Regions from separate parts of the Homo sapiens genome. Here region 2 is linked to region 1. Evidence: fine-mapped expression QTL. A gene starts in region 1. The other region holds a variant in brackets. All regions are shown on one strand. Distances are between the middles of the regions.

The links. PIP is the estimated chance that this variant, and not a neighbour inherited with it, causes the effect. A credible set is the group of variants that fine-mapping cannot tell apart.
Region 2: its variant is the best candidate, but not a certain one, in a credible set for the expression of ZNF821 in whole blood (INTERVAL, PIP 0.76).

Annotation. Positions count from the first base shown.
Region 1 is chr16:71,876,183-71,891,528 of GRCh38, reverse strand. ZNF821 (zinc finger protein 821) reads left to right here and starts at 7,347. Exons shown (of 8, transcript NM_001201552.2): 1 at 7,347-7,621; 2 at 8,256-8,318; 3 at 11,506-11,622. The coding sequence starts at 11,583. RefSeq lists enhancers at 5,981-6,481, 8,322-8,521 and silencers at 7,062-7,821, 7,842-7,961.
Region 2 is chr16:71,845,694-71,861,039 of GRCh38, reverse strand. ATXN1L (ataxin 1 like) reads right to left here and starts at 15,064. Exons shown (of 3, transcript NM_001137675.4): 1 at 14,936-15,064; 2 at 12,969-13,030; 3 at 3,712-11,416. The coding sequence starts at 11,299. The coding sequence ends at 9,230. ZNF821 (zinc finger protein 821) reads left to right here. Exons shown (of 8, transcript NM_001201552.2): 8 at 368-1,355. The coding sequence ends at 1,022. RefSeq lists enhancers at 5,052-5,101, 7,602-7,741, 9,561-10,340, 14,577-14,646, 14,448-15,219 and 1 more and a silencer at 14,867-15,176. The variant T/C (reference allele first, on the strand shown) is at 7,562.

The DNA.
Region 1 (15,346 bases):
ATCATCACCTGTGTCCTGGGCTTTAACAAAACCTACCTGTCTATTTAGATCCTGTAATATATCAACTGTGAATTGTACCCCAACAAGCCAATTATTCGAAACAGTATCTCTGAGGGAATTAAAAAACACAATATTATCTCTGTCCCTGGCTGAACAGACAAGTTTCATTCAGAAGCTAAACATACTGAAAAATAAACACTGTTTCCCTTGAAAATCCAGTTTTGCTGTTGGGACAAATGTTAACACATTACATTTCTTTGGTAACTAACCAGGTACTTTTTTTGTGTAAATGACTATAACTAGTAGCTGTAACTAAAACCAGACACAGTGTTTGAGCCCAATAAAATAAGAATCTATAACAGGCCTGCAAGCCTTAATCAGCCAACCTGTTTTGTGTACAGCCTCTCCAGCTAAGAATGATTTTTATATTGTTAAAAGGTTAAAAAGCAGGAAGGGGCTGGGCGCGGTGGCTCACGCCTGTAATCCCAGCACTTTGGGAGGGTGAGGCGGGCGGATCACGAGGTTAGGAGATGGAGACCATCCTGGCTAACACAGTGAAACCCCGTCTCCGCTAAAAAATACAAAAAAAAATTAGCTGGGCGTGGTGCGGGCGCCTGTAGTCCCAGCTGCTTGGGAGGCTGAGGCAGGAGAATGGCGTGAACCTGGGAGGCGGAGCTTGCAGTGAGCCGAGAATGCGCCACTGCACTCCAGCCTGGGTGACAGAGTGAGACTCCCTCTCAAAAAAAAAAAAAAAAAAAAAAAAAGCAGGAAGGGGAGGAGCATGAATGTGTGACAGTGACTTTATGTTGCCCACAAATCCCAAAATATTTACTATGTGGTCCTTTATAGAAAAAGTTTGCTCACCTGTAATCCCAGCATTTTGGGAGGGTAAGGCAGGGGGATCACTTGAGGTCAGGAGTTCGAGACCAGCCTGGTCAACATTGCGAAAATCTGTCTCTATTAAAAATACAAAAATTAGCCAGGTGTGGTGGTGCACTGTAATCCCAGCTACTCAGGAGGCTGAGGCAGGAGAATCACTTGAACCTGGGAGGCAGAGGAGGCTGCAGTGAGCCGAGATTGTGCCACTGTACTCCAGGCTGGGAGACAGAGTGAGATCCTGTCTGAAAAAAAAAAAAAAGTTTGCTGACTTCTGCATAAAAGTACTACACATTGTGTAAGAGAAAGAAGGGAAAGATGATGGGCATAGAGTTATTTCCTTTGTTTTAACTATTAACATTTAGACTAAAGAATATACAATGAAACAAAAAAAGAAAAAGAAGAAAAACAATAAAAAAAAGAATATACAAGGATATAGGAACTGCTCTGGACATCTTCCTAAAGCCTAGGAAAAAAAAATCAAGATCACTTGTTAAAGAACCCATGAAACAAGTCTTCAGAAAACTAATTAATGTCACTAATTAGGGCTATATACAAATATTAACTTATCTTTGTGGCATTTTACAGTTTACAAAGCACCTATAAACACATTATCTCAATTTCAGGCTGACATTTCTGTGAAGCAGCTGCAGGTCAAAAATCATTTTTTTGTTTTTGTTTTTGTTTTGTTTTGCCTGAGACAGGGTCTCGCTCTGTTGTGCAGGCTGAAGTGCAGTGGTGCAATCATGGCTCACTGCAGCCATGATCTTGGGCCCAGATGATCCTCCCACATCAGCCTCCTGAGTAGCTGGGACTATAGGCACATGCCATGCCACCATACCTGGGTAATTTCTTATATTTATTTGGTAGAGATGGGGTTTTGCCATGCTGCCCGGTCTGGCATTATCAGGTCAGGTTTTTTCGGGTTTTCTTTTGTTTTTGTTTTTTTGTTGTTGTTTTGTTTTTTGTTTTGTTTTTTGAGACAGAGTCTCACTCTGTCTCCTAGGCTGGAGTGCAATGGCATAATCTTGGATCACTGCAACCTCCACCTCCCAGGTTCAAGTGACTTTCCTGCCTTAGCCTTCCAGGTAGCTGGGATTTACAGGCATGCACCACCACACCCGGCTAATTTTTGTATTTTTATTAGAGAAAGAGTTTCACCATGTTGGCCAGGCTGGTCTTGAACTCCTGATCTCAAGTGATCCATGCACCTCAGCCTCCCAAAGTGCTGGGATTACAACAGGTGTGAGCCACCGCACCCGGCTATTGTCAGTTTTTATAGGAGGAAAGTGAAGCTTAAAGCTATGAAGTGACCAATCTAAGGTCAACAGCTATAAATGCCAGGATCAGATCTTGAACCCAGACTTTGACACTGAACATCATATATTTTCTTTTCATTTATTTATTTTTTATTTTAAGACATGGTTTCACTCTGTCATCAGGCTGAAGTGCAAGGGTACTATCACAGCTCCCTGCAGCCTCAAACTGCTGGGTTCCCATCTCATCCTCCTAAGTAGCTTGGACTACAGGTACATGCCACCATGCCTGGCTAATTTTTAAAAAACATTTTTGTAGAGACAGGATCTCACTATGTTGCCCAGACTGGTCTCAAACTCCTGGCCTCAAGTGATTCTCTCACCTCAGCCTCCCAAAGGCATGAGCCACCTCGCTTGGCCCGATTATATACTTCCTGTATATCCATGTTTCCATAATAATTTCCAGCCCTGTTTTACTTTCAATTTGTGTATATGGAGTTTATCAATACATGAAAATAAAATGCATTAAATCACAGTTATTACTGTGATTTGGGTTCATATATAAGATCAAAAAATTTTCAAATCAGGTTTTTACATTTATCATCATTGTAATCATCTAGAAAACTTAATTTTTCCTTAAATGAACTCAAAGCCATGAAAACTTGTAACTCTAGATTCTAAATATAAACACAAAAGTTTAAACATTGTCCTTTAAAATATCAGATTTTTATCAAGACTGTATGATAGTGGCATAAGGATAGGCATATAGGTCAATGGAATAGAACTGAGAGTCCAGAAATAAACCCATGCATTTATAACCAATTGATTCTCAACAAGGATACCAAGACAATTCAAAGGGGGAAAGAACAGTCTTTACAACAAATGGTGCTAAGAAAACTGGATAACTGCATGCAAAAGAATAAAATTGCCCCCCACCCCGGCCTCACACCATATGCAAAAACTAACTCAAAATGGAGTGAAGACCTAAATGTAGGAGCTAAAAAACTCCTAAGAGAAAACATAGGTGTAAATTTTCATGACTAGGCGGTGATAGTTTCGTAGACATGGCATCCAAACCACAAGCAATGAAGGAAAAAATAAATTAGACTTCATATAAATCAAAAACTTTGTGCTTCAAAGGACACTATGTGCCGTGACCAAATAAATAAAAATAAATATTATTTTTATTTGGGATACCAAATAAATAAAAATAAATTTTAGGCCAGGCGCAGTGGTTCATGCCTGTAATCCCAGCACTTTGGGAGGCTGAGGCGGGGAGATTGCTTGAGCCTAGGTGTTCCAGACCAGCCTGAGCAACATGGTGAGACCCCGTCTCTACAAAAAATACAAAAATTATTCAGGTGTGGTGGCGTGTGCCTGTAAGGGCATGCCAGTAGTCCCAGCTACTCGGGAGGCTGAGGTGGGATGATCACCTGAGCTCAGGGAGGTCAATGCTGCAGTGAGCTGTGATCATACCACTGTGCTGCACTCCAGCCTGGGCAACAGAGTGAGACCCTGATTCCAAAAAAAAAAAAAAAAAGACAACTCAATTTAAAAATAGGCAAAGGATTTGAATAGACATTCTCCAAATGGTCAATAATAAGCACATGAAAAAATATTCAACATCCTTAGTCATTAGAGAAATGCAAATTAAAATCACAATGAGATATGACTTTATATCCACTAGGGTGGCCATTAATGTCAAAGACAAACAATAACAAATGTTGACCAGGTTGTGCAGAAATTGGAAACACCATATGTTGCTGATAGGAATATAAAATGGTGCAGCCACTTAGGAAAACAGTTTAGCACTTCCTCAAAAAGTTGAACACAGAGGGCTGCGCGCGATGGCTCACGCCTGTAATCCCAGCACTTTGGGAGGCCGAGGCGGGCGGATCACGAGGTCAGGAGATCAAGACCATCCTGGCTAACACGGTGAAACCTCGTCTCTACTAAAAATACAAAAAAAATTAGCCGGGCGTGGTGGCGGGCACCTGTAGTCCCAGCTGCTTGGGAGGCTGAGGCAGGAGAATGGCGTGAACTCAGGAGGTGGAGCTTGCAATGAGCCGAGATCGCGCCACTGCACTCCAGCCTGGGCGACAGAGCAAGACTCGGTCTCAAAAAAAAAAAAAAAAAAGGTTGAATATAGAGTTACCATTTGACCAAGCAATTCCACTCTTAGATATATGTATGCACCCATGTCCATACATAATGTAAAGACATATGTTTACACAAAAACTGTACACAAATGTTCATAGTAGCATTATGCATAGTAGCCAAAAAGTAGGCCCAAGCCAAATATCGTTCCACTAATGAATGGATAAATAAAATGTGGCATATCCATACAACAGAATATAATTCAGCCATAAAAAGGAATTAAGTACTGATATATGCTACAACATGAATGAACCTTGAAAACCTATTAAGTGACAAAAGCCAGATTAAGTGACAAAAGCCAGACACGAGAGGTCCCATACTGTATAATCAATCACATTTATATGAAATGTCCAGAATAGGCAAATCCACACAGACAGAAAGTAGATTTGTGGGTGCCAGGAGCTGGAGGAAGGGAGAATGGTGAGTTACTGCTACTGGGTATGGGATTTCTTTTTGGGGTGATGAAAATATTCCGGAATTAGATACTAGTGATGTTGTCAACCCTGTGAATGTACCAAAACCCACTGAATTGTACACTTTAAAAGCATGAGTTTCATGGTATGTGAATTATACCTTAATTTAAAAAAATGTAACATGAGGTTCTTAAAATCCTCCTACCTTTATTGTTGGAATATAGAGCCCTAACAAGGTCATTGTAGAAGCCAACAAATATAAAATGGATTAGGAAGATATTTCAAGTGGAAAGTTAAATAGTTGAAGTGGCAAAATGATGACATAACTGTGAGTAGATTGGGAAAGTAGAAAAAAGTGAAGCTAAAAAAATATATATGGTTAATTAAAAGGTCTTCTAGATGTAGAACAAGTTTAGGTGAAAGCAGAGGAAAAATAAATTAATTCTTCTTTTTTAAAGAGACAAGGGTTTCACTATGTGGCCCAAGCTGGCCTCAAACACTTGGGCTCAAGTCATCATACCATCTCAGCCTCCTGAGTAGCTGGGACTATAGGTGCCAGCCACCATGCCTAACTTAAACTAATTACGTATTTAATAATTTTTTCATTATTTGGTTGTAACCTTGAATCACAACACCTCTGAGAAATTTTTAGAGCACAGGGAAGTCATAAGAATAGCATTATTATCATCTCATTTTATTTGGAAGTCAAGGAGATGGAATAAGCTGCCCAACATTACATAATAATAATGCATCCAAGAAATTTCACTGGAGGCAAACTTTACCTGTTTGCTACTTTTCTGTTGAAAATGTCAACTAAGTCAGCTTTAAAGTGACATAATAAAGCCATACTTGTATCCCTCAGTCCAAACTGATCAAGAATTACTGTTAAATATAAAAGCCAGTGTGTATTCTAGGTTGTATTCTTACACAAAATAGTACAAACACTTGCGGGTTGGATGATAATATTCCATTTTCTGTCTACTTGGAAACTAAGTTTTTAAATGAAATTAAAATGTTTCCTTGACTGAAGTTAAACAACAATAATTGCTATCTAAGTATCCTAATCACAATAAATAAATGAGTGAATGATGAATGAGCTATTTATCACAGAATTGTGAAGGACCAAGATCCCTCAATGTAATCATTCTATTACATTGAACACAAGATGCAGACAATGAGATCATCTCATAAAAGATTTAGGGGAAAGACAATTTGCAAGAATGTTCTATGCAAATACCAGGACTTGTCACTTTATCAGCAAATGACAGCATCCTCGTTAGCCCTGCCTTTGTGCAGCCAGTAATCACGAAAAACATTTGCATGATGCTTTTAGCCATTTGTTTTACTTAACTGGCACAACAACCCTCGGAGAGTAAAGGCCAGGAATTATTGCATCATTATCCATTTGACATCTTAGGAAGCAGAGGCTCAGAACAGGGAAGTGACTTGCCCAAAGTCAACAGGCTGGTGGGTGGCAGAGCTGGGGCTCAAAGCCAGATCTTCTAATACCAGATCTCATCTTCTTTCCTCTGCATTCCCTGCTTCTCCAGGTAAGCGATGCCAGGGCAGGCTCAGGCATTCTAGAAGAGAGGAAGAAAAGAAGGCAACAGGAACTAGGAGAGAGAAGGACGTGGACAGGAGGAGGTGTTTGACTAGAAGTGCGTCCAACCAGGCCGGGCACAGTGGCTTACGCCTGTAATCCCAGCACTTTGAGAGGCCGAGGCGGGAGGATCACCTGAGGTCAGGAGTTCGGGACCAGCCTGGCCAACATGGTGAAACCCCGTCTACTAAAAATACAAAAATTAGCTGGGCGTGGTGGTGCACGCCTGTAGTCCCAGCTACTCGGGAGGCTGAAGCACGAGAATCGCTTGAACCTGGGAGGCGCAGGTTGCAGTGAGCGAAGATCGCGCCATTGCATTGCAGCCTGGGTGACAGAGCGAGACTCTGTCTCAAAAAAAAAAAAAAAAAAAAGGTCCAACGGCTCTCCATTGCCCCCAAACATCCCTCAAGTGACAACAGTGCCACAAGTTCCCCTGCCCCTGGGTCTGCAGCCAATGTTATTTTATCAGTTGAGAATCATGTCAGAAAATTAAATACTCAAAAGAAATCTCAAGATTTCCCAGCTCTGAGGTTCTGACAGCTGAACTTGGCCCCTCCCACCAAGGCCCGTGGTCACATTCAAAGCCTCGGGAGCCGAAGCCACCGCGAAGCGTGGGGGAATGAGGCGAAGAGGGTTTGTGACGGTGGTGGGGATCCGGGCTAAGGAGAGGGGGTGCCTGCGGCGGAGCTGTGGTTGGGGGTTGTGGGTTTTGTGGCTGAACTCGATGGTGGGGTAAGAAACCAGGATCGGGGCTGGGTAGGGTGGCGTTTACACGTCCAGGAAGGTCTGGGGGAGCTGAGCGGCTGAGACAGCCAGAGAAAGACCCGGGAATGGGCGAGGCGGGGGGTTCCGGAGCCCTGGAACGCGGGCGAGCCCCTCTCGGGCGCCCGGGATTGGGCGCTCCCCGGAGCCCCTCCTCTCCAGAGCCCCTCTCCTCAGGCCCCGCCCACAACGCCAGGCGCGCGCCGGGCCGCGGGGAAGGGGACCTGGCCGGCGCGGGGGAGGGGGAGAGGGAGGCTCGTGCACGCGCCTCACTAGCTGCGGGTGCGCGAGCCGCGCGCTCCCGCCGCCCGCGTCGCCATCTTTTTCCCCCTCCGTCTGTCTGTCTGCTGTTGGCTTTGTCCGTCTGCAGCGCCGCCCCTCGGCTCCCCGCCACCGGCTCGGCTCGGCCCGGAGCCCCTTCCGCTCGCCGGGGCCCAGTCCCGGAGCGCCCCGGCCCGGCTGGCTTGGGCTGCGGTCCCGGGTCCATTGTCCGGCGGTCCGTCTGTCCGGAGGCGGGGCCCAGGGACCCAGAGCGCAGCGCAGCGCCGAGGCGCCGGGTAAAAAGACCCCCTGCCCTCCCTCCGGGTCCGGGCTGGGGATGCGGGCTCCTCGCCCCCTCGCGGCCGCCGGCTGTTGGTCCTTTTGTCTGCACTGGGGAGAGGGCCGGGGGCCAGCTCCGGCCTAGGGGGGCAGCCCGGGCTCACCCTCCCCGCTTCCAACCCCAATTCCTCCCCGGCCGCTCCTCCTGCTGCCCCTTGGCGCTCTCGGGCGCGGGGCGCGGGGTGCGGGGCCGGGGGGCTTTTGCGCGGGCCGCGGGCACCCCGCCTCCTCGGGCCCCGGCGGGGACGGCCCCGGCGTCTGACAGCCTTGGGTGGAGCTGGGGGAGGGGAGGATGGGCGTGGGCGTGCAGACCGGGGGGTATCAGTCCCCGCGTCTGGGTCTCGCAGAAAAGCTTCTAAATTTAGATTTCGGAGATTGTGTTGTCTAAGGGTTTGTCTGAGCCGCCTCGGAAGACCTCCGGCTCTTGTCAGGCTCTTGTCTGGTAATTCCTGGGAATTTACCTGGGCTCATGCTTGAAGAAGCAGAGGGACCATCTCGGCTGATTAGACACGCCCCAGACCCAACCCCAGGGGTCAGGTGAACAGCCAGGCGGCTAAGTGACCAGCTTTCTTGTCCTCTCCTTTTTGGCAGATACAGATCACTTGGATTCAGTCGAGTTTGCTTTGCTCCGTGGGAACTGCACCAGAGCTGGAGGTGGGAACGCACTCTCTTTTCATCAAGCTGAGATTTCACTCGTTTTTTTTCTTGCCAAAGTCTGTGGTGTGCCCTAGACGCTGCAACCTAATACCTGTGGGAGAGCAGAGACAGTGTTCAGGGGAGACGTTGCACCTTCCCGAGGACTCTTAACCTTGCTCTGAAGACAGACAGAACTGCTTTCCTTTTAAAATGGAATCCCTTTAGACCTGAATCTCACCGTTTACCTGTCTTCCCAGCCCATGTTCAGGCAGCTATCTATTTACATTTTTGGTTTGGTTTGGTTTCAGGTTTTGGCTTGGAAATTGAGGCAGTGTTAAAAGTAAAACAAAATGAGTGACCTTTAGGGCTGTATGTCTCTGGGTTTTATTAGCTTTAACTGCCTATAAAACAAGTCATCTGGCCTCTGAGATCTTGCTTTGTGGTCAAGAGTGTCCTTTCAGCGCCATTTATTTATTTACTTATTGATTTTCAACAGCCCATGACCCCACAGGCCTGTTTTTGTGGGTGTTTTTGTTATTATTTTCGTTTCGTTGTGTGGGAGGGGACTGTAATTGCTTATTTTTCTCTTGATCACTCAGGTGTGAAGTCCCATTGGGTACCATCTGGTCAGTTCCCCATTTGGCCACTAGGAGGATTATAAGATGCAGCGGGCATTGCTGATTTAAATACGCAGACACTCATCTCTGTCTTTTGACTTGGAGCTTTAATATTGAAATGTTGTCTGGTTCAAATTATTTGGCCTTCCTTCAGAAGGGACTTTATTACCTTTATCTTACAGTTTCAGTTTCTGATCTTGAAGGGAGAAAATATAAAAATTAGTCAAGATTCTGTTTTTTCTTCTATAATAGAGTATATATATATTTAGCCTCAATAGATTATCACATTAGAGGAGTATATTTTATTTTTTTAAATTTTTATTTATCTTTTTTTTTTTTTTTTGAGACGGAGTCTCGTTCTGTCGCCCAGGCTGGAGTGCAGTGGTGCGTTCTTGGCTCACTGCAACCTCCGCCTCCCGGGTTCAAGCAATTCCCTGCCTCAACCTCCTGAGTAGCTGAGATTACAGACATGCATCACCACGCCCAGCTAGTTTTTGTATTTTTAGTACAGACGGGGTTTCACCATGTTGGCCAGGCTGTTCTCAAACTCCCGACCTCAGGTGATCCACCCGCCTCAGCCTCCCAAAGTGCTGGGATTACAGGCGAGAGCCACCGCCCATGGCAGTTTTTTATCTTTTTTTGAGATGGAGTCTCACTCTGTTGCCCAAGCTGCAGTGTAGTGCCTCCATCCCAGCTCACTGCAACCTCCCCTCCCCAGGTTCAAGCGATTCTCATGCCTCAGCTTCCCGAGTAGCTGGAATTTACAGGTGTGCACCACCATGCCCAGCTAATTTTTGTATTTTTATTAGAGGTTTCCCCATATTGGCCAGGCTGGTCTCAAACTCCTGGCCTCAAGTGATCTGCCTGCCTTGGCCTCCCAAAGTGTTGGGATTACAGGCGTGAGCCACGGTGCCTGGCCATATTTTTAAAAATATTAATAGAGCCTGCATTTCATTACCTTTCCACTTGGTGATTCCACACACATATAGGAAATCCAAAGTGTGATATTCATTCACTGCTTCCGTGAATAAAACAACTACTTGATTAGAAAAAAATGACATACACAAAACTTAGAGAACATACACTATCAGCACTCAGTATATTGCCCTCTAAATAGTTTAAATTGATTTTTATTGTATACATTTAGAGTTTTGTTTTGTTTTGTTTTTAATTAAAGGTCTGAAAAAGAACTGTGTTTGATATGCAGATATGCTAGAAGACTGCCTGAAAGCTGCTTCCTTTGCCACTTCCTGTGGAGGCCTGTCTTTGCCATTTGCGGTTTCTTTATTCTTTTGGTAAGGGGAGGCAGGATCTGATTATAGGTTTGAGGTCCTTCTAGCTACATAGAGGAGTTAGTTGGCATAACAGGAGGTGAGTCTTCATTAACTGGAGTACAAAATATAGCTAGCAGTAGTCTCCCATAACTCCTCTTAAGGCAATAAACTATGATTTTATGTTTGCTTATTCAATGTGAGTATAACTCAAGAAGGCAGGAACTGAAAGAAAACTTAAGAGTGTGACCAGATCCATATTCCTGTCTTTGGTAGGAAAGACAATCCCTTTTTATTCTATGTCTTTATTCACTCTTTCTAAGAAAATGACACAGCTATCAATACTAATCCATCTCAGATTCTCTAACAATGCTTAAGGCTGGGGCACTCTTTCTGTAGTTAATCAGGAACCTTCAGGCTTACGTATATATCCCCTCCTATATGGGGTGGGGAGCAGATGCATGTCTTGGCAGCATTTTTCGTTTGGGGAACTTTTCTCTTTATTCCTCCCACTGTTCTCTTTGCTACCCAGAGGCTAGATTGAGAAGAGCCTCTAAAGTTATTAACTTTGACCACCTCTCTGGAATGTGTGAGGAGGGCCAGGTGGTATTCCACACTGGGGTGTTGAATTAGTACTCATCAATGTGGATGGCATCTGTCTCTTCTGGTGAGAGCCCATCTTCAACATTAGAAGTTTGATTTGCTTAGTGCCATGTCATTCACAGTGCAGCATAGCATTGCGCCTGTATCACCAGATAGAGGCTTTATTTCCCATGCTGTTCTCATTTACAGATGCCTATTTGAGACATTTTCTGTCTCGCAGGGATGTGATGCCTTTGCTACCTCTAGGCAAGATAACATCATGAAAAATCCGCTGGTGTAGACTGCAGGGCTTGACTTCCAGTGGGCATGTGACATGTGAGCTGCCACCCTCTTTGGCTTCCTTTTGCTTCCTTTTGCAATTCATCGGAGTTATCCCCTTGAGCCCACAGTACTTCTAACCCTGGATGCCTGAGTTTTACTTCCTCTTTTATCCTGTGACCTTGATCATGATCACTTAACAGTATTCTGGATTCCAAAGATGGATTTAGAGTATAATTCTCTAAGTCCTCTGAGGGAGTCCCCTCTTAAACTTTCTGGGACCTTGACGTTAGGCTAGAGATTTATTCATTTCTTTCTTTCTTTCATTAGTTCAATTATTTATAACTGGTGAGTTTTATATGCTCAGGAGCTGTTTTTTAAGGACATTTTATCTTTAAATTTTGTGTAACTGCTGGGGAAAATGACATGTGCTAACAATAACCTTTTTTATTGCAGGTTAGCATCTTGCAAGGAGGTAGTAACATATCCAGTCGTGAAACTGGGAAAGACCAGAGCTCTTGCATCAGGGAAACATGTCCCGTCGGAAACAGACAAATCCAAATAAAGTTCACTGTGAGTATCGGGCTTTGTCTTCTGGAACCTGGGAATGCTAAGGGGTGGAATGGAAGAGTAACCTGAATTTAGGGGAGAAGCTCACGCTAATTTGTGAAGAAGAAAAGTTTAAATGTAAAACACAGTTTGCTGAGCAGAAGAGAAAAAAAGAAAGAAAGAAAAAGGGTTAAAAATGTTGGAAATGGTGGATTTAAAGTGTGTCTGGTTGCTGGGGGAGGTGTTGGAAACCTATCTTAGGGGTATGTACACTTGATATATCTTTAATATCACATTAACAAACAGTTATAGGATACCTACTCTCTGCAGATCCTTGTGCTAGATGTCAGGGCTCTAAACCAATATAAGATCTATAAGACCGTATTGTAACCTCAGATATATAAATATGAATGATAGTATATGCTAATTGCCAAACAGATGCTGCAGACTGTATGTACTAGAGAAGTTCGGAGGAAGGAAGTTAAAAGAGCTCAGTGGACTGAAGTAGCAAGGGGAATGCTTAATGGAAAAGCCTCTAGACCATGCGCCTGAACTGGGCCTTAGAGGGTAGAAAATGGATTTGAAAAAAAAAATTAAAAAACAAGAGGCAGGGAGAGGGAACATCAGGTAGGGAAAGTGAAGTGAGCAAAGACAGAAGCGGGAATCCACATGTTCAGAGGACAAGGAGACTTTATATGAAGCAGAGGTCTCATTTGTTCAAAAGTCAGAAGATGTGAGGTTAGAGATGCTTAACTCTACACGTGGAAGGCTGAATGCCAGGCCAAGTTCAAAGTTCATTCTATAGTCCGTAGGGAACTACTGAAGGTTTTTAAGCAGGGAGAGGGGAGTGACATTTAGAATACAGCGTTTTGGTACTATGAAGCAATTTGTGGGATGGATCACAAGAGGGAGAGGCTAGAAACCAGAAGGCCAAGTATACACTATTACCTTGTGTTGTTTTCAACAGTGTCACATGCATGTTTTTCTTTGCTTTTTTTTTTTTTTTTGAGACAGAGTCTCGCTCTGTCACCCAGGCTGGAGTGTAGCAGTGTGATCTCTGCAACATCGGCCTCCTGGCTTCAAGCAATTCTCCTGCTGCAACCTGCCGAGTAGCTGGGATTAAGGTGCTCGCCACCATGCCCAGCTAATTTTTTTGTATTTTTAGTAGAGACAGGGTTTCACCATGTTGGCGAGGCTGGCCTTGAACTCCTGACCTCAGGTGATCTGGCCACCTCGGGCTCCCAAAGTGCTGGGATTACAGGCATGAGCCACCGCACCTGTTGCATATTTTATTTCAGTAATTGCATAGTAAACTTCTAGAAGGCAGAGACTATGTGCCATATGTATTTCCTTATGTATCCTCTTTACTTCTAGCACTACTCATAGAAGGTGTTCAAAAAGTGCCTTCTTAAATTGACATTAATATCTACACAGATTTGAGATAATTAGCCATTTTCCTATTATCTGGGAAGATAATCGTTCCCACCCAAATGTTCGTTAAAAAGACAAATAGTGGCCGGGCGCGGTGGCTTGCACCTGTAATCCCAGCACTTTGGGAGGCCGAGGTGGGCCATATCACCTGGGGTAAGGAGTTGGAGACCAGTCTGGCCAACGTGGCAAAAAACTCATCTCCACTAAAAATACAAAAAAAATTAACCAGGCATGGTGGCAGGCACCTATAATCCCAGCTACTCTACTTGGGAGGCTGAGGCAGGAGAATCACTTGAACCTGGGAGGTGGAGGTTGCAGTGAGCCAAGATCGTGTCACTGACTCCAGCCTGGGCAAACATAGACTCCATCAAAAAAAAAAAAAAAAAGACAAATAGTTCCCTATTATTATGAACTGTTTGAGTAAAGTGCAGCAACATTTGAAGAGAATTCAGAGGTATAACAGATGAAAAGTTTGTAAAAAACAAAAAACCTATATATGTGTGTATATATATATAAAATATATATACATATATATTTATATATATTTTATTTTTTTATATAATATATATAATTTTTTTTTGAGATGAGGTGTTGCTCTGTTGCCCAGGCTGGAGTGCAGTGGCGTGATCTCAGCTCACTGCAACCTCGACCTCCTGGGCTCAAGCGATCCTCCCACCTCAGCCTCCCGAGTAGCTGGGACTACAGGTGCATGCCACCACGCCCGGCTAAATATTTGTATTTTTTGTAGAGACGGGGTTTCACCATGTTGCCCAGGCTGGTCTTGAACTCCTGAGCTCAAGTGACCTACCCACCTCAGCCTCCCAAAGTGCTGGGATTATAGGCATGAGCCACTGCAGCTGGCTAAAACCCTACATTGGAGAGGACAGATTAGTCAAGTAATTGACAAGATAACTAAAATTTCTTAAAAACATGCTATATAGGCTGGGCGCAGTGGCTCACCACTGTAATCCCAACACTTTGGGAGGCCAAGGCAGGAGGATTGCATGAGCCCAAGAGTTCGAGACCAGCCTGAGCAACATGGCAAAACCCCGTTTTTTCAAAAAAATACAAAAAAACTAGGCCTGGGGGCATACATCTATAGTCCCAGCTACTCAGAAGGCTGAGGTGGGAGGATGGCTGGAGCCTGGGAAGTTGAGGCTGCAGTGAGCCAAGATTATGCCACTGCACTCCAGTCTGGGTGCCAGAGTGAGACCCCGTCTCAAACAAACAAACAAAAACCAAAAAACTATATCCCAGGCACTATGCACTTTATCTGAATCTTACTGGGTTACTTCAAGAGTAGAAGACAAAATAGTATAAACAGAGGAATTAAGAGGGTTTTGACATTTTATACATTAATGAGATTACAATAGCAAACCTCCATATAAAATTCTTTCTTCTATTTAAGTCCCGGAAAAGTGTAAAACGGAACGAGTTGGATGCTTCTAGGAGTATATTCTGGAATGGGGGTGTGCAAAGGCTACTTAATACACAGATGAGTGGTTTAGGGAAGATTTAGAAATTGCTGCTAAAACAGCAAAATGCAGTGGGCTTGCACGTGAGGATTGTCAAGGAAGATAAAATGAAGTATCTTTAGCCGAGCTCGGTGGCTCATGCCTGTAATCCCAACACTTTGGGAGGCCAGTGCAGGATAACTTGAGGCCAGGAGTTTGAGTGCAGCATGGGCAACAAGGCAAAACTCCATCTGTACCAAAAATACAAAAATTAGCTGGGCGAGGTGGCACACACCTGTAGCGCCAGCTACTTGGGAGACAGAGGTGGGAGGATCGCTTGAACCCAAAAGGTCGAGGCTGCAGTGAGCTGAGAGAGCTGAGATCATGCCACTGCACTCCAGCCTGAGCGTCGGAGTGAGATCCTGTCTCCAAAAACAAAAAAAGAAAAAGAGAAAGAAAAAAATGAAGTATTTTAGCATAGGCCATCCATCACAGGGGTTTAGGATTGTTTCTCCTCTCTGGTTGATAAAAGACACAAGTGGCCGGGCACAGGTGGTGCACGCCTGTAATCCCAGCACTTTGGGAGGCCGAGGCAGGAGGTGGATCATGAGGTCAGGAGTTTGAGACCAGCCTGGCCAAGATGTTGAAACCCCATCTCTACTAAAAATACAAAAATTAGCCGGGTGCAGTGGCGGGTGCCTGTAATCCCAGCTACTCGGGAGGCTGAGGCAGGAGAATCACTTGAACTCGGGAGGCAGAGGTTGCAGTGAGCCGAGATAGTGCCACTGCACTCTAGCCTGGGCAACAGAGCAAGACCCCGTCTCAAAAAAATAAATAAATAAAAAGACACAAGTGTGACCCCA
Region 2 (15,346 bases), 30 kb after region 1:
TACTAAAAATACAAAAATTAGCCGGGCGTGGTGGCGTGCGCCTGTAATCCCAGCTACTCAGGAGGCTGAGGCAGGAGAATGGCTTGAACCTAGGAGGCGGAGGTTGCAGTGAGCTGAGATTGCACCATTGTACTCCAGCCTGGGCGACAGAGCAAGACTCTGTCTCAAAAAAAAAAAAAAAAAGTTGGTAGACAACTCTCACGCGAAGAGAAGGGATGGAGCAGCAGAAGAGGTCCACCAAGCATTCAAACTGACCCCTTGTGGTGAGCGTGGAGCCACTGGCCTCATAGGAAAAGAATAAGGCAGGGCTGGAGTCCCGACTCTTGCTAGAAGGAAACACTAACCATCCAAAATGTTTCCTTTCCAGTGAGAAACTTCCTGAAGTACTAAATATGGAATCCCTACCCACAGTCCACAATGAGGGTCCCTCCAGTGCTGAGGGGAAGGATATTGCCTTTAGTCCTCCAGTGTACCCTGCTGGAATTCTGCTTGTGTGCAACAACTGTGCTGCCTACCGTAAACTGCTGGAAGCCCAGACTCCCAGTGTACGCAAGTGGGCTCTACGTCGACAGAATGAGCCTTTGGAAGTACGGCTGCAGCGGCTGGAACGAGAGCGCACGGCCAAGAAGAGCCGGCGGGACAATGAGACCCCCGAGGAGCGGGAGGTGAGGCGCATGAGGGACCGTGAAGCCAAGCGCTTGCAGCGCATGCAGGAGACAGACGAGCAGCGGGCACGCCGGCTGCAGCGGGATCGGGAGGCCATGAGGCTGAAGCGGGCCAATGAAACCCCGGAAAAGCGGCAGGCCCGGCTCATCCGAGAGCGAGAGGCCAAGCGGCTCAAGAGGAGGCTGGAGAAAATGGACATGATGTTGCGAGCTCAGTTTGGCCAGGACCCTTCTGCCATGGCAGCCTTAGCAGCTGAAATGAACTTCTTCCAGCTGCCTGTAAGTGGGGTGGAGTTGGACAGCCAGCTTCTGGGCAAGATGGCCTTTGAAGAGCAGAACAGCAGCTCTCTGCACTGAACCACACCCTCCTGCCTGCCCTCCTTCCCACCTACCTACCCACCCACCCACACCCACAGCCACGAGGACCAGTGCTGCTGCCACCCACGAGGCCCTGTCCTTGCTGCCAGAGGCAGGCCTGGGTTTATTGCAGGTGGACCTGAGCAGCCCTTGCATATGGGAACAGGATGATGGGGTCAGGAGGGACCTGGCTCAAGGCAGCTCTGGACAAGGGAGCAGGCAGTCCAGAGAACTGGCCTCCCCAGCCCACTGCCACAGGCTGTGCTTCTAGGACTGTGGGGCCCCTGTGTGGCCCATGAAGTTGTGAAGTCAAATAAATTAATTTTATCTTTACTGCCCCTTTCTTGCTTTTCTCTCAATGTCATTCTAGCAAATGAAGTGATCTAGGAGAAACCTGGGTGGAAATTTTCAGACAGTGGCTTCTGGTGGCTTGCCGTTTTCTTAGGGAGGATGCTCCTCAGCTTAGGCTGTCCAAGCAGAGGTCCTTATTTGGGCCTTTACAAGTTGCCGAGGAATTAGCATGACACCGAAGAAAGAACCGATGTTGACTGTGATGATTATTCCCACAACCATAATGAAGATACCTGTGGTCCCAAGGGCTGTTTAAACCTAGCTTACCTTTTCCAAACTCAGAAGAAGTCTCTTCTCATAACTGCTGTTTTCTAAAGACTATGCAATACCTTCAACTAGGTGTGCAACTTTTCCCAGCAATATTGTCGAACATTTACAATTCTAGACAGTAGTCAGCTGCATCTAGGAATAGGCTCATAGAAATAGCTGCAATATTAAGGTGCACAGCACCAAGAAACTCATGTTTGCATTTTATTTGTGTTTTATTTGTTCACCAGAGGCAAGGAAGGAAAATAAGCTCACTGAAGAAAATCCAGAATTAAGGTGGTAAGAGAGCTCAGGTTAAGGCTAGGGCAAAATGATTACTCTGGCAGGTTGTATGACTGCCAAACCATGGAGGAGACAAGAGCTGAGGTCATTTCTAAAAAGTTTCTGTGATGGTACAGAACAGGCACAGAACCTTCCTAGCCTGCACCAAAGGTTGTGTTCAGTTTAGATAATTATAGATCTTGAGGTCCAGAAGGAAGTGCCCTAGTTAAATTGTAGCCAGAAAAATAACTATGCCAGGAATGCGGACTTCTTCCAATATCTTAACAGGGAAACTTGGATTCCTCTCTGACCTCCATAGGTCCAAGGCTGTTTAACAGTGTCAACTGACCCCCGCCAAACTAGGGGTTTTGTTTTTTGTTTTTTGTTTGTTTTTTGAGACGGAGTCTCGCTCTGTTGCCCAGGCTGGAGTGTAATGACGTGATCTTGGCTCACTGCAACCCCTGCCTCCCGAGTTCAAGCAATTCTGCCTCAGCCTCCCGAGTAGCTGGTGTTACAGACACGTGCCACCACACCCGGCTACTTTTTGTATTTTTAGTAGAGACAGGGTTTCGCCATGTTGGCCAGGCTGGTCTTGAACTCCTGACCTCAGGTGATCCCCTGCCTTGGCCTCCCAAAGTGCTGGGATTACAGGCGCGAGCTACGTAGAACCCTGCCTGGAGTTTGCTTTTTTGAGAAAGGATATCACTCTGTCACCTAGGCTGGAGTACAGTGACAAGATCATAGCTCACCATAACCTCTAACTCCTGGACTCAAGTGATCCCCCTGCCTCAGCCTCCCAAGTAGCTGGGACTATAGGTGTGCACCACCACACCCAGCTAACAAACTAAGGTACTTTCACCAAGCAGGCTAAAATATTTGTTTTGAAAAATACATTTAAAAGAAAATACTTAGTTGGCGTGCTTGTAATCAATCCCAGCTACTCGGGAGGCCGAAGACGAGAATCACTTGAACCCGGGAGGTGGAAGTTGCAGTGAGCTGAGATTGTGCCACTGCACTCCAGCCTGTCAACACAGTGAGACTCTATCTAAAAAAAAAAAAACAACAACAAAAAAAAACAAACAAAAACTGTTTAATTTACTTAATTGACCCAAATGCCTTTCTCCCAGAGCTCCATACTGGAGTCCTACTTGGGATGCTTTAAAATGACTGAGTCCTCACCATGTGCCACAGATGATTCTAAGCGCTTTACATAGATGATCTCAATCTTCACAAGAAACTCTGAATTCATACAAACTCAAGAGTTGCACCTCTGGGTTCAGAAGTGCCCTGCCACACTAGCTGTGTAACTTTGGGGAGGTTACTTAACCTCTATGTCTTGGCTTCCCCATCCACAAAATGGAAATAATACTAGCAAAAAAAGCTTGTCCGTACATACAAAGCACTTAGGATATTTTGTAGCCCATAATAAGTGTTCCATAAATGCCATTACTAGTGGCAAGCTTTCTAAATTTTAGGCAGTAGCTATGATTGGGGCTGACTTATTCCAGCAATTTCTGGCAGTATTCCTGAGTAAAGAATTGGGGAGAAGGCCAGCAGCGAAGGCACCTACAGATCCTTGTGATTCCACTAGAATCTAAGTGTTCAGGTAGACTTCCGGGTCTCTGAAATCCACACCAACAGAGGGGAAAGACCATGCTTGAGGACAAGCTCATGCCATCTCCCTTGAGCTCACCGCACAAATAAAGCCACCATTTGTGTTCCATTACAACTGCTCCCACAAAGGTTTCTATCCCCCACCCCATGGCCACCATCTAAGGCTGGGATAGGAAGAAGGCGCAAACACCAAAAGGAAAAGCTAGTAGTTTATATAGATAGATATATAGATATATAGATATTGATAGATATTGTGTTTACATAGTCCACAAGTTAAATGCAGGTATCCATAAGAAGAGCATTAACAATAAAAATACAATCTGTGTGTAGCCAAGTACAGAGACTTAAAATGGTAAAACAGCAAAAAGGATCTCACAAAAGTACAAATATACAGTACAAATTGATTTATTTAAAACAGTTACAAAAAAGCACAACAAAATAGAGATTATCCTTAGAATTATTAATGCTTTGTTAAAGATCAGGTAGGATTAGAGGGTAAGAAATGGTATTGGGTGGAGGGAGCACCTGACTAGTTCTAAGGCTTTAGATACAATGCAGTTGATTACATATTAATTCAGCCATTACATACTGGGGATAGTAGATGGGGGATCAGTAATTTATCTACAGGGAACTCCTACACAGATCCATCCAGACCTCCCCAGTGCCATCCTTCTCCACTCCTTAGGACCCTAAAGCCACCTGGATGACAACATTCCCATCCTTTCTCCACCCCATTCCCTATCCGTATATTCTTCCCTCGCCTAAGGTGCTGTGCAAGCTGAGAGCAGTCTGCTCTCTGCAGCTGGATCATATACTGTTTTGGCTACAGGGATCCTGTGTGACTAAGAAGGTTGTAGGGGACAGCCTTATTTTAATACTTTAAGTTAGCCATGAGTACAGTCAGTCCCTCCCCCAACACAATCTAGATTCTCTTGAATGCAAGTATCAGTCAAGTGAGGGATCAACCCTGCCTTCAGCAATACCAGCAATGCACTAACCACTCACAGCTCACAACTACGTGCAAACTCCCTGCCCAGGGGGTGGGTGTAAAACCACTGTGTCATCAGCTCACACTCTTTCTCTGAAGAACCTCAGTCCCCATGACAGTCATAAAGACAAATAAATGCTTGCAAGTTTGACAACAGGTAAAGGCACATGGGCTGCTGCCACACACACTGCAGGCAAGAACCCAATTTGAGGCCATCTTCACTGCTGGGCATTTGCAGTGGAATGGCTTTGGGATCACAAAACTTTGAGTTCGCAATCTACCAGGGAGGGATCTAGGTTTAACTGGAGAACTAATAAAGAAACCTTTAGTGTGAAAAGTGCATTTATGACTATTGTTCCTGCTGGGGAGGCAGCAGGGCAAACCGCAACACCTCTCCTCCTTCCGCCCCAGGCACTGTGCATGGTCTGCAGCTAAGGAGAGAGTGCAGTCGACTCTAGCATCTCTGGGGCCAGTGTCATCCTAGGCACAGACCAGGCTTCTGGTCCAAAGATGGATCCTAGAGTTGAAAGAGCAACTGACAGCTGCAAAGACCCAGATGCTTATTTTATTATTGCATAATGTGGGAGACCTTCCCTACCCCAGGAAAGCTGGAGAGTGAAGGCTTCCCAGCAAAGGGCAAACAGGTTCCTGATCGACATCCAACCTAATAAGGTTCAGCTCCTCAACTGTAGTGTACACTTTTGCCCATCTGGAAGGTACTATAGCTTCAGTGTGGTTTAGTAAACTTAGCCTAGGAGGCCAAGATGTCTCCCTAAAACTTAGTCTCTGTCCTATTTACTTTGTTTATAAGACTGTGACCTAACTTCCCATGGCCAATTCAATCGACTAGGTTATCTTTACTCCAATGGACCCAGGCCTTTTCCCAGTCAATCCATGTCCAACCCTTCATCTCCAGCGTGATCACTCAACTCTTCAACATGCCTGCTTGCTGCAGGTTTAAACCACACCACCATCCTGTGCTTCCCCCTAAATCGCCCATGATGCCCGCAGGTAAAAATAAAACTAAACCCCACTTGAGGTGCTATTTCAGCCAAACTTTAAACCCTCTCCGAACTCCAGAATCCACCTAACTGGAGCTGGACGAACTTCACTGGGATGCTGGCATGGGCCCTAATGTGGTTCCCTTCATTTAGTTTTTAAAACAGGATACAAGATACCACAAAGGAAAGAAGTTAATACAACAGAAGACACCACTAGTAGAAACCTGCTTGTTTCTCCCTCAAGATAGTCAGACATTTGGAGCCAGAGGGCTCCCAACAGCACTGAAGCCTTATCCCTTTGGATTTACCAGCCCACCAGCAGCATTTCATACCATCCCTATCGAACATGACTTCGCTATAAAATAACATGGCCTAACACAGGTAAGAATGAACCGGACGCCTACACTTAATCTACATGGCCAAAGACATGGAAGGATAGGGAGCTGTAGAGGACAGCAGGCAGGACAGTGAGCGGACAGCAGCAGTGGCAAAGCAGCGCAGGGCAAAGCCCTTGGTGTTATGACCAACTGGGACCAAGAATATAGAAGGACCAGCCCAGATTGGCTGGGGGCCCTCCCTCAGGTACAAGTACTCAGCTCTGAACTCCCAGAGCCCCTTCCCCCCATGCCACCTCTTCCTCATGTATACTAATCTTGATAGGAATGATTCAAGACTTGGCTTATTATCCATCCATGACTGGGTTCCCCTATTCCCAAATTGGTATACACATTTTTATACAGCGCCAGACAGTCAGCAGTCCTCCTTTCTATTCCTAAGAGCTGGAAATGTCCTACTGCTGACAAGGGACAGGCTCTGGCCCTTGTCAACTGCTCATTCTTAAAAAGTTGGCAACTTCCCACTAAAATACTCGCTAAAAACTGCTCTCATGTCTCCTGCAAACTCAGGAAATTCCTATAAGGAAGAATGGACACACCACAGGTTAGTCATATTTTTCATGCCTGGAGGAAAAGACTAAACTAGAGGTTAAAGGCAAGGGGGAGGCCACAGCTCTGACCGAGATTTAGAGCACAGAGATTCTTTTCCTGGGGACCATATTTTATGACAGATACCTTTGCAGCTCAGCAAAATCAAGTATTAATATGTTATATATGCATGGAACGATATTGTGGTATTACAGGAACTGCTGGTATTGCTTCACCAGCAAGAGACAGCAACAGAAAGGTCAGGGCCCAACTTGCCAGGGTCCTCAAGAATTTCTCTTTCCAGAATTCAGTGGAAGTTACCAGGTTGGAAAGTCACAAGTAGCCCAAGTGGAAGGTGATTTGATCTAAACTAATTGGTCTGTATCTGGTTAGACATAGGTTTGCCCCATAAGGAGAAAGCTCAGCTTGTGTCCTTGCAGACACTGCTTGAGCATCTACTGTGTACATGTCACTAAATTCAGTTGATGAGCCTTCCTATGAGGAAGGACGCTTGTGAGAAACCCATGCAAACAATGAACTCTAGGAATGAGTTGCTCATGAAACAGCCAGAGATGAGGCCTTCTCCCAAGGCCTTCTCATTTGAGGGGATTCCTCAAGACTCAACCCCACAGGCCCCCACTGTAGGAAACAAGCCAGAGAAAGCAGCATTCAGAGAATGGGGGACAGAGAAGGGGAAAGATATGATCCCAAATGCAGTACAAAGTTGGCGTCTGGTTCTGACACAAACCAGATACTGAAGCACTCACGGTCAGGTCAGCAACCTCCTTTGATGGACCCCCAAAAGCTGACTGACCAGGCAAACTGCTTTCAAGGAATGAAAGAGTGGAGGGTAGGGCTTGTAGCAAACAAGCCAGTTTCAGTCACTCTGTTCCCCCAGGAGAACAACCTTTAGCACCTGAACACTAAGAATGACTCCATTCTCAGAACTTCCCCTCCCCCCAGGAGGTAGGTAAGATTATTTATCCCCATTTGGCAGGTGGGGAGGAAGTGAAAGAGCCAGAGGTCACGAGACTTGCCGAAAGTCCTTGACAGAGCAGAGATCAGACCTCAGAGGTTTGGACTCCTGATGCCAGGCCAGGTCTCGGCCAATCCAAGTATACCTTATAAAGGACA[T/C]GCCAGGATCATAGCCTGGGAGAAGTCTAACCAGAGAGCTGCGTGGACAATACCCTGAGTTGCCTTCAAGAGTCTAAAGACCCCCAAAAAACAAACAAAAAAACTTACCCACCTGAAAGCTAGTGGGGGAGCCTAATTCCCAATACCCAGTGGAACCCCACGGTCTGAGCTGATGCTAAAAGTTGTGAAGAAAATGTGGGATTAAGACATTGGTGGGGGGTAGGGGGGGTGCCAATGCAACCAAGATTGAAAATACTTTTTGCAGAGGAATATACCAACACAAAATGACATCTATTCAGGTACTGAAATGTTATCAAGACTATCCTAGAATCTTAGAGCTGGTGGTGGGAGGGGATGGCTTGGAGGCACCAGAATGCTGGGAGAAGCAGTGGAATAAGACAGGAGGGGCATATGGGACATGTGAAAATGCCATGATGGGCACTGCCCAGCCACGCATTCGCCCTGGCCCAGGGCATAGTTCCCTTCTTGTTTCTTCACCAAGCTGTTTGGCAGTGGAAGTGGAGGGGACATGATTTTGAGATTTTAAAAATAGAGATTATAGCTGAAGGGGAAACCAGAGAGACCCCCTACCCACCAAAAACTAGAGGTCTTGGTCAGAGTGGACAAAACCAACTTTGCAGACAAGGAAAGGCAGTGCAGCTACAAATGAGGCCCAGGTCACGACACCATGCAGCGGTCAGCGCAGCAGGAGGGTGGGGGTGGCGCAGGCACTTGGGCACAACACAGACAAAGGTGGGGGGTCAGTGCCTGGGAAAAAGGGTCTACTAGTTCTAAAGTCACCATTACCAGCAAGATTCTGTGAGATTTCAAAGTGGGTCTGGCATGCTGAGATGGAGGAGCTTTGTTAGGTGAGCTACCTTTCCAGAGGGCCTGCCTAGAACCCAGTCAGCCTGGCTATCAAGTCTTTCTCCCAAAGTCCCCTGACTGAGTCCCTGGCAAGGTAGTACTTCACTCTGAACCCTGAAGGGGCTCTCCCTCCGGGCCCCCGTGCTGCTAGAAGCCTTGTAGGCAGAATGGTGAGGAGAGATGGGGAAGGGCTATGAAGCAGAGGATCAAGCAGAGTCCTGCAGATGAGAGTGCTCCTCCCCCACACACCCAGCCATAGACATCTGGAACAAAATCACCCTTTAAAGTGCGCATCTCTCACAAGAAGGGTTCTGGGTGGGAACCCTCTTATTTCCAACCTTGGGGCCTCCTGCCCTTCTACCACAAAAAAGAAAAAAAACTTCTGACAGTTTAACTGCTACTATAAGCTGTGGATCATCATTTTTGGCTCTTTCTTTACTCCCTCCCTCTGCCATCTGCTCCCAAAGCCTGGACTTTCTCTTGCAGGAGCTAGGGATGGGGAGGAAAGAACAGGGAGGCCCTGATTTTGGAATGTTTCTTCTCCTGTGTGCACCCCCTTCCTTCCTTGCCCCAGGCCTGCTGCTCCCCATCACAACACCCTCTGGGGTTGTCCTGAAAGGATGCCATGGGGTAATGAACAACAGATCCTGCCTTGGGAGGCTGACTTCATGCCTCCCCTTTCCCCCAAATCTCACTGCCAAGAAAGCCATTCCCTGCTCGGCGTGTGCAAATCCTCTGCCTGCTCACGGCGGCGAGGCGAGGCTCTGGGGTAAAGCCCCAGTCCTGGTCTGGGGAAGAGGTTCATTTTCCCGCATTGGAACGCCCTTCAATGGACAGCTTTACCTCCTGTGGAATGAAAGAGGGACGGAGCAGCGCAGCCCGTGCCTCCTCCCCTTGCATGCTGTATCTTTGGAAGCTCGGGGCTGGCCAGCAGGCCTGAGCACCGGACTCAGGCTGGGAAGGCTCTACCACACGGGAGCCCTCTCCTGCCGGCTGGCTCTTCCCCTCACTGTCACATAGCTCTCTGGATCCCAAGACCGTCCTCTCAGGCCTTTCTCGGGGGGGACCCAGCTGGCTTGGGGGAGCACAGCTGGCCTGAGAAACTGAGTTACTGTTCAAGCTCTGTAAACTGATAGAGATGCAGACATCTCCCACCTGTAGCCGATGGCAGGGCAGAGAGAAGAGTTGTGTCGTCCGCCCAGGGCTGCAAGAGGACCAACCCTGGCCATATACAAAGAAGGGGTGCTCGGGGGGCACTTCGATGCTCACTTTGCTCTGCTGCTCACCAACCACAAAATGCAGCATGACAAATCCAGGCCATTGGCTCTCCTGAATGTCCACGACCGTGCTAGAGTCAATCTTCAGCCCCCCGCTCACTTCGGCACTGCGCACAAAATCCTGGGTCTGGAGGTCCTCCACCCGCTTCAGCTCTCCCGTAGCCAGCTGGATGATGGCGCCTTTCATGAAATGGGAAGGCAAGTGAGAGGAGGTAATGGGGGGCGGCGTTGGCTCCTTGTCTGGGAAGGTGGCTCTGGCCTGCACGTCCAGACTTGATGCTACCAGGATCTCCGAGCCCACAGGCAGCAGGCCTGAGTCAGTTCCAGTGGGCACCAGGTTGCCATTGGCTACAACCATTGCTTTGGGTAAAGGTCTATGTTTTACTGGTTCCTGATGGGACTGAGGGTAGAACCCACGGGCCTGACTTTTCTCTGCCAGCTCTGCAGGGTTCCTGGCTGACCCTCGCCCCTCACCCTGATGGTCGGGGGTATGATGGGATAGGTTGAGGGGGCTGGGTTCCTCCTTCCTCTGAGCTGCCACCACACGATAGTCCTGAGAAGCTAAAGCGCCAACCACCCGCTGGACCTCAAGGTCAGTGTCCGGGGTCCCCCGGTGTGCTGGTGCTGCTACCTCTACCCGTGGAGTCTGAGAACCTGAAAACAACTGTCCATCCACCACACATTCTACCACTGGCACCAGTCCCTGGCCTTCACCCTTGCTGTTGGGGGAGTCAAGGGCTTCACTTTCCCGTCTTACTAAATTTCGCTCTCGTGGTCTCTGTCCTCCATTTGCAGCAGCTGCTTCCAGAGCAGACTGGCTCTCCTGAGGGGTAAGAACTGGGCTGGCACCTGCTGGAGGGGTTTCATGCAAAGTATACCCAGCAGGTAGCCTGGACATCTGATAATAAATGGGCATCCGACCTGGAGCAAGGTCCAGCGGCTGAGTACTTGAATGATGTGGCAATTGCCCAGATGGGGAGGTGGCAGAGGGAGCTTTGTTAAATGAGTGGGCCGGGGAGGGAGCCTGTGGGGGAGGAGTGGCTCCTTCAGCCAGAAGTGAGGCATATGGCACAAAGTGTGGAAGGTGAGAGGTGGCAAGGTTGGCAGAAGGAGATAGGAGGGGACTCGGTAGGAAATTAGGTGGCACAGCATAGGGAAGGCTATAAGGAGACCCAATGAACTGCAGCGAGGTGGATGGGAGCTGAGCATAGTGGAGTGGAGGATAGTGGATGCCTGGATGTTGAATTAGTGAAGACGCTACATTAAACGTTGGGGGCAAGGGACTCATATTCACCACAGATGGGAGTCCAGTTGGTGAAAAGGTGGCAGGCGGCACAGCCACCTTATACAGCATGCCATACTGGTCCACTGTCAGACCGGTGATGGCCTCAGCTCCATCACCCCCCAGGCTGACTCTGGCTCCTGCCTGGCTCTGCCCAGCCACCACAACCCCTCGGGACCATTCAGAAGCATCACTGGAGGGTGTGTGGTTAGTGGAGCAGCTGGTAGTTCTCCCCATATCCTCGCTGGTCACGGGGAGGTCTCGTTTCTTTGGTGGAAGGCATTCCTGACTCCTTTCATGAACAGGTTTCATATTGCTTTGTGGTGTTCCTGGAGCCTGGAAGGAGTCGACTTGCTCCCTGGGGCATCAGAAGGGGCTTCTCTGTAGCTTCCCTGTACCCCTCTCTGCTTCTGGCTGGGGCGCCCACATCTATTAGGGAACAAATCAGAGGCAAAGAAAAGTAACCTAGGGATGAGCCAAGACAAAGGAAATAGAAAGAACTGTGCCATGGAGGAAGATGTAACAAAGGGGACTGTTAGAAAATAAGGAGGAAAGAGAAAGGGGCAGACAAGGAGGCTACCCCCAACTCATCCAGCCTGGGACATGAGAGAAACAGTCGGGGAAATCACAAGGCACAAAGAGCTACAGGGACACGCATTCACCAATGCACAAATAACCTGTGGGCTCCACAAGCCCAGGGAGACCAACAGCTTCACGGTTAGTCATGTGTCTCATAAGCACCTTGTCTCTTTTCTGCCTTCTTCCCAAAGGGGGCTTTGAACACATGGTCTTTCCTGCTGGCTCTTTTGCTTTTTTTTTTTTTTTTTTTTTTTTTTAAAACACATGGAGTTTTGCTCTTGTTGCCCTGGCCACAGTACATGGTGCAATCTCAGCTCACCGCAACCTCGCCTCCCGGGTTCAAGCAATTCTCCTGCCTCAGCCTCCCAAGCAGCTGGGACTACAGGCATGCACCACCACGCCTGGCTAACTTTGTATTTTTAGTAGAGATGGGGTTTCACCATGTTGGCCAGGCTAGTCTCGAACGCCTGCCCTTGGGTGATCCGCCCACCTCAGCCTCCCAAAGTGCTGGGATTACGGGTGTGAGCCACAGCGCCCAGCCTCCTGCTGGCTCTTTTTCTTAAGTTTCTCCTTTTGCTACCAAACATGAATGTGCCACCTTCTTTCCTGAACATATGACCTCATCCTTGCTTCCTTTCTGTAGCCTAATTTGGGTTATGATCTCACCTACTGCTATCCCAAGCCTGGCTAAAAACTCTCTTCCTCCTTTGCCTCATCTCATCAGTACCTCAAGGACCTAGGTGCCAAAACCCTCAGGTCTGCTCGTGTTTTGTTTTTTTTTTTAAGACTTTGCTCCCTAACCAGGTTATGAAAATTAACATCTTTGACCCATGAAATAATACATTTTAACTCAGCCTCTATATAGTGAAAGTGATTAAACTAGTTTGCTGTCAACTTGTTTCTCCTCTTCACCAAAGAACAACAAAATTCTAAATTCTTCTGACCTTACGTACACTTCCGGTTCCCTAGTCTCAAAAGGCTTCTTCTCAATGATCACCTTCAATTTGCCTTCTCTATTCATTCCCTTTCTTTTTTCTTTGTGCTTTCTTTTACCAATAGCTCCTTCTCCACTGTAGGTCTGCTCCAGGCACCACTCCATGAAATTCTGGTTCCATTCCTCTAAACATGCCTGTTTTTTTCCCCGTATCTGTATGATTCATAAGAAAGTTCTCTTTCCCTTTTCTCTTATTGTCACCTTTCACAAATGCTTTTGTCCATTGTTATAAAGCAACTTTTTGGTCTGAACACTTCAGTGCACATGAACTTTGCTGCCTATTTCTTCCAACCAGGTTCCAGTTCTTTGGATCTGAAAAGAGCTTTCTATATTACATTCTGTTCTGTTTTTCCACTGTGACATCCCAGATATTTTCCTGAAACAAGGAATTCAAAGTGCCGGTATTACCTGAGTTTCCAGTGGTGCTTCTGAGCAGCTGTAGTAAGTGTCCTCCCGGCTGGCTCGGGAGCCTAGAAGATAGAAACAGGAATGGAGTAAGCGGCTGCCTGACCTCTAATTCTCCCCAGGGTCACCATGAAAGGTAATTCCAAAGCATTAGAGTATACACGTCCTTGCCTCATCTTCTTCTCCACAGGTAAACAGTACATTTACCCAGAGTGCCCAGGCAGTTGAACAGAGAGAAAAACACCTCTAATGCTCCAACTTGTAAGAAGACATCCCTGAAAAAAAATTTCCATGTATCAAATTTCATTGGTTTTCCGTAACATCATTTCCCTAACATCTACCTGTGCCTGTTCCCCAAAGGTTAAATTTGCTCCAATCCAAATTTCAGATAAACGCACAAATAAAAATGGAAGCTTTAACACTGTTCCCATATGAACAATGGGAAGCAGGAAAAATCAACTCTATGGATTTCCCCTTTATTCTGGGCCTATGAAAACATAAATGTGGAGTTATTTAAATGAAAAAAAGCAGCAGTAGATGAAAAAGAACAATTATTTATGTTTCTGGGGCAGAAAAAGAGGTCAGGGGGGAGTCACTCAAGGAGAAGACTTATTAAGAGATTTTCAGGGTTAAAAAAAAATGAGCATATGTGTGTGTGTATGTAAAATTTTCTGAGTGACAGTATACCAAGTGCTGAATCAGGTATGAAAGAAACTGAAAATATTGCCTTGGTCCTCAGCTGGCTAACACTGGTGAAACAAAACTACCACTAAACCATCACTATGTGAATCTACACTTGCCAGAAACGCAAAGCGAGAAAGAATGGAGCCTTAACCTCTGAAAACAGAGAAGGCAGTACAGATGAGTGAGTGCTCTGAGAAACTGACTATCCTGTCCAAGTCCTATAGAACACTCTAAGCCTCAACCCAAACCGAATGCAACATTTCTCTCTTAAGATTGGCAAGGTGCAGGTGTACACAAAAGGTGGAAGGATAGGAAAACACAGTGGGAAAACAAATTCCTAATTCCACAAACACATATTATTACACAGTGGCATAAATAATGACTCTTTTCTCCACCAGCAGCTTTAATAACTGAAAAGCAGCTTGCTTTCTTCTTCATTCCCAACAGAAACTGGGGTCACACTTCAATCCCAAAATGATCCTTGCTTTCTGTAACGAAAACTTTAAAGAAAACCTGCCTCCAGGTCACCGAGAAGTTAGCAAACACAGGCTAGTAAAGGGACCGAAAGAGGCAAAAGGTCTGCAGAAAGGAAAACAAAGAGCCAAGCCTGTGCGCCAGGTTCCCACAACGCAAAACACACTTAAGAATCCGAAACCTCCGCCTCTCGAGAACCTCACTGAGCATCTCAAAGGGAAAACGCAGCTTGTGACCCCAACCGAGCTAACAGGCTGTTCAGGAGAGTTGCCAACGCTGCTAGCAGAGCCCGGAACCAAGCTCCTCATCACGCTTGGGTCGGAATCAAGGGGCTGAACCCAGCTGGAGACCCAAATTCTCTGCGGGCGAGAGGTGCGCCCGACAGAAAGGGAGAAGCTTGTCAGAGACTACGGTTATGGCTCCCAGTGGTCCCGCAATCCTTGATCCAACAAGGGTAGGGCTCGAAATTGGGAATTCTGCGTTTAGAGAGTAGGGGGTCCACCCTTCACCAAGGGGGCAGGGGCGAGGCCCTGCAGGCGACGCTTCCTTGTTTGGGGGCCCTTCCCGCCCCACAGACTCGGACACCTTGGCTCGCAGGCACACAGCCTCCGGGGCGCCGGGGCCTGAGGCCACCTTCCAGGACAGGCCAGAGAGAAGCGCGAGGGGGTCTAGGTGCGGCCTCTCCCCTCCGTCTGTCCACGGTTCATGGGCCCCGGCCCGCCGGAGCAACGGGCTCCTGAGGGCCACTTCCTCCGGAGCACCGACCCCAGGCCTGCCTGGCCCCGGCGGCCACCACTTCCAGGGACACTCACCAGCCCATTTCACAGCGCTTCCCAGGATCCACTCACTCGTCCCGGAGCCGCCGCAACCGCGGCCGCCGCCATCCCCGGCCCCGGAGCCGCCCCACACCCAGCGCCCCCCACAGCCGGGCGCCCGGAGATGGCGTCAAGCTCGTCCCGCCCCCGGCGCGGAGAGATTGCGTCACGGCCGGGGTGGGAGAGCAACGCCCAGGACTCCCCGGGAAGGGAGGGTGCCACACTGCCTTCGCGTCGGGCGTTCCCTCTGGTGGGTGAACAAACTCCTCTCCCTGGGACCGGGTCACGTGAATAGGGCTGGGCCCGGCCCCCTCAGCCTGACCCCACAATGACCCCGCAATCTTTCCACCTCAGTAAATTTTGGGGGTTCCCAAACAGAGCCCCGGGGCGTGGTCATCGGCGACCCCC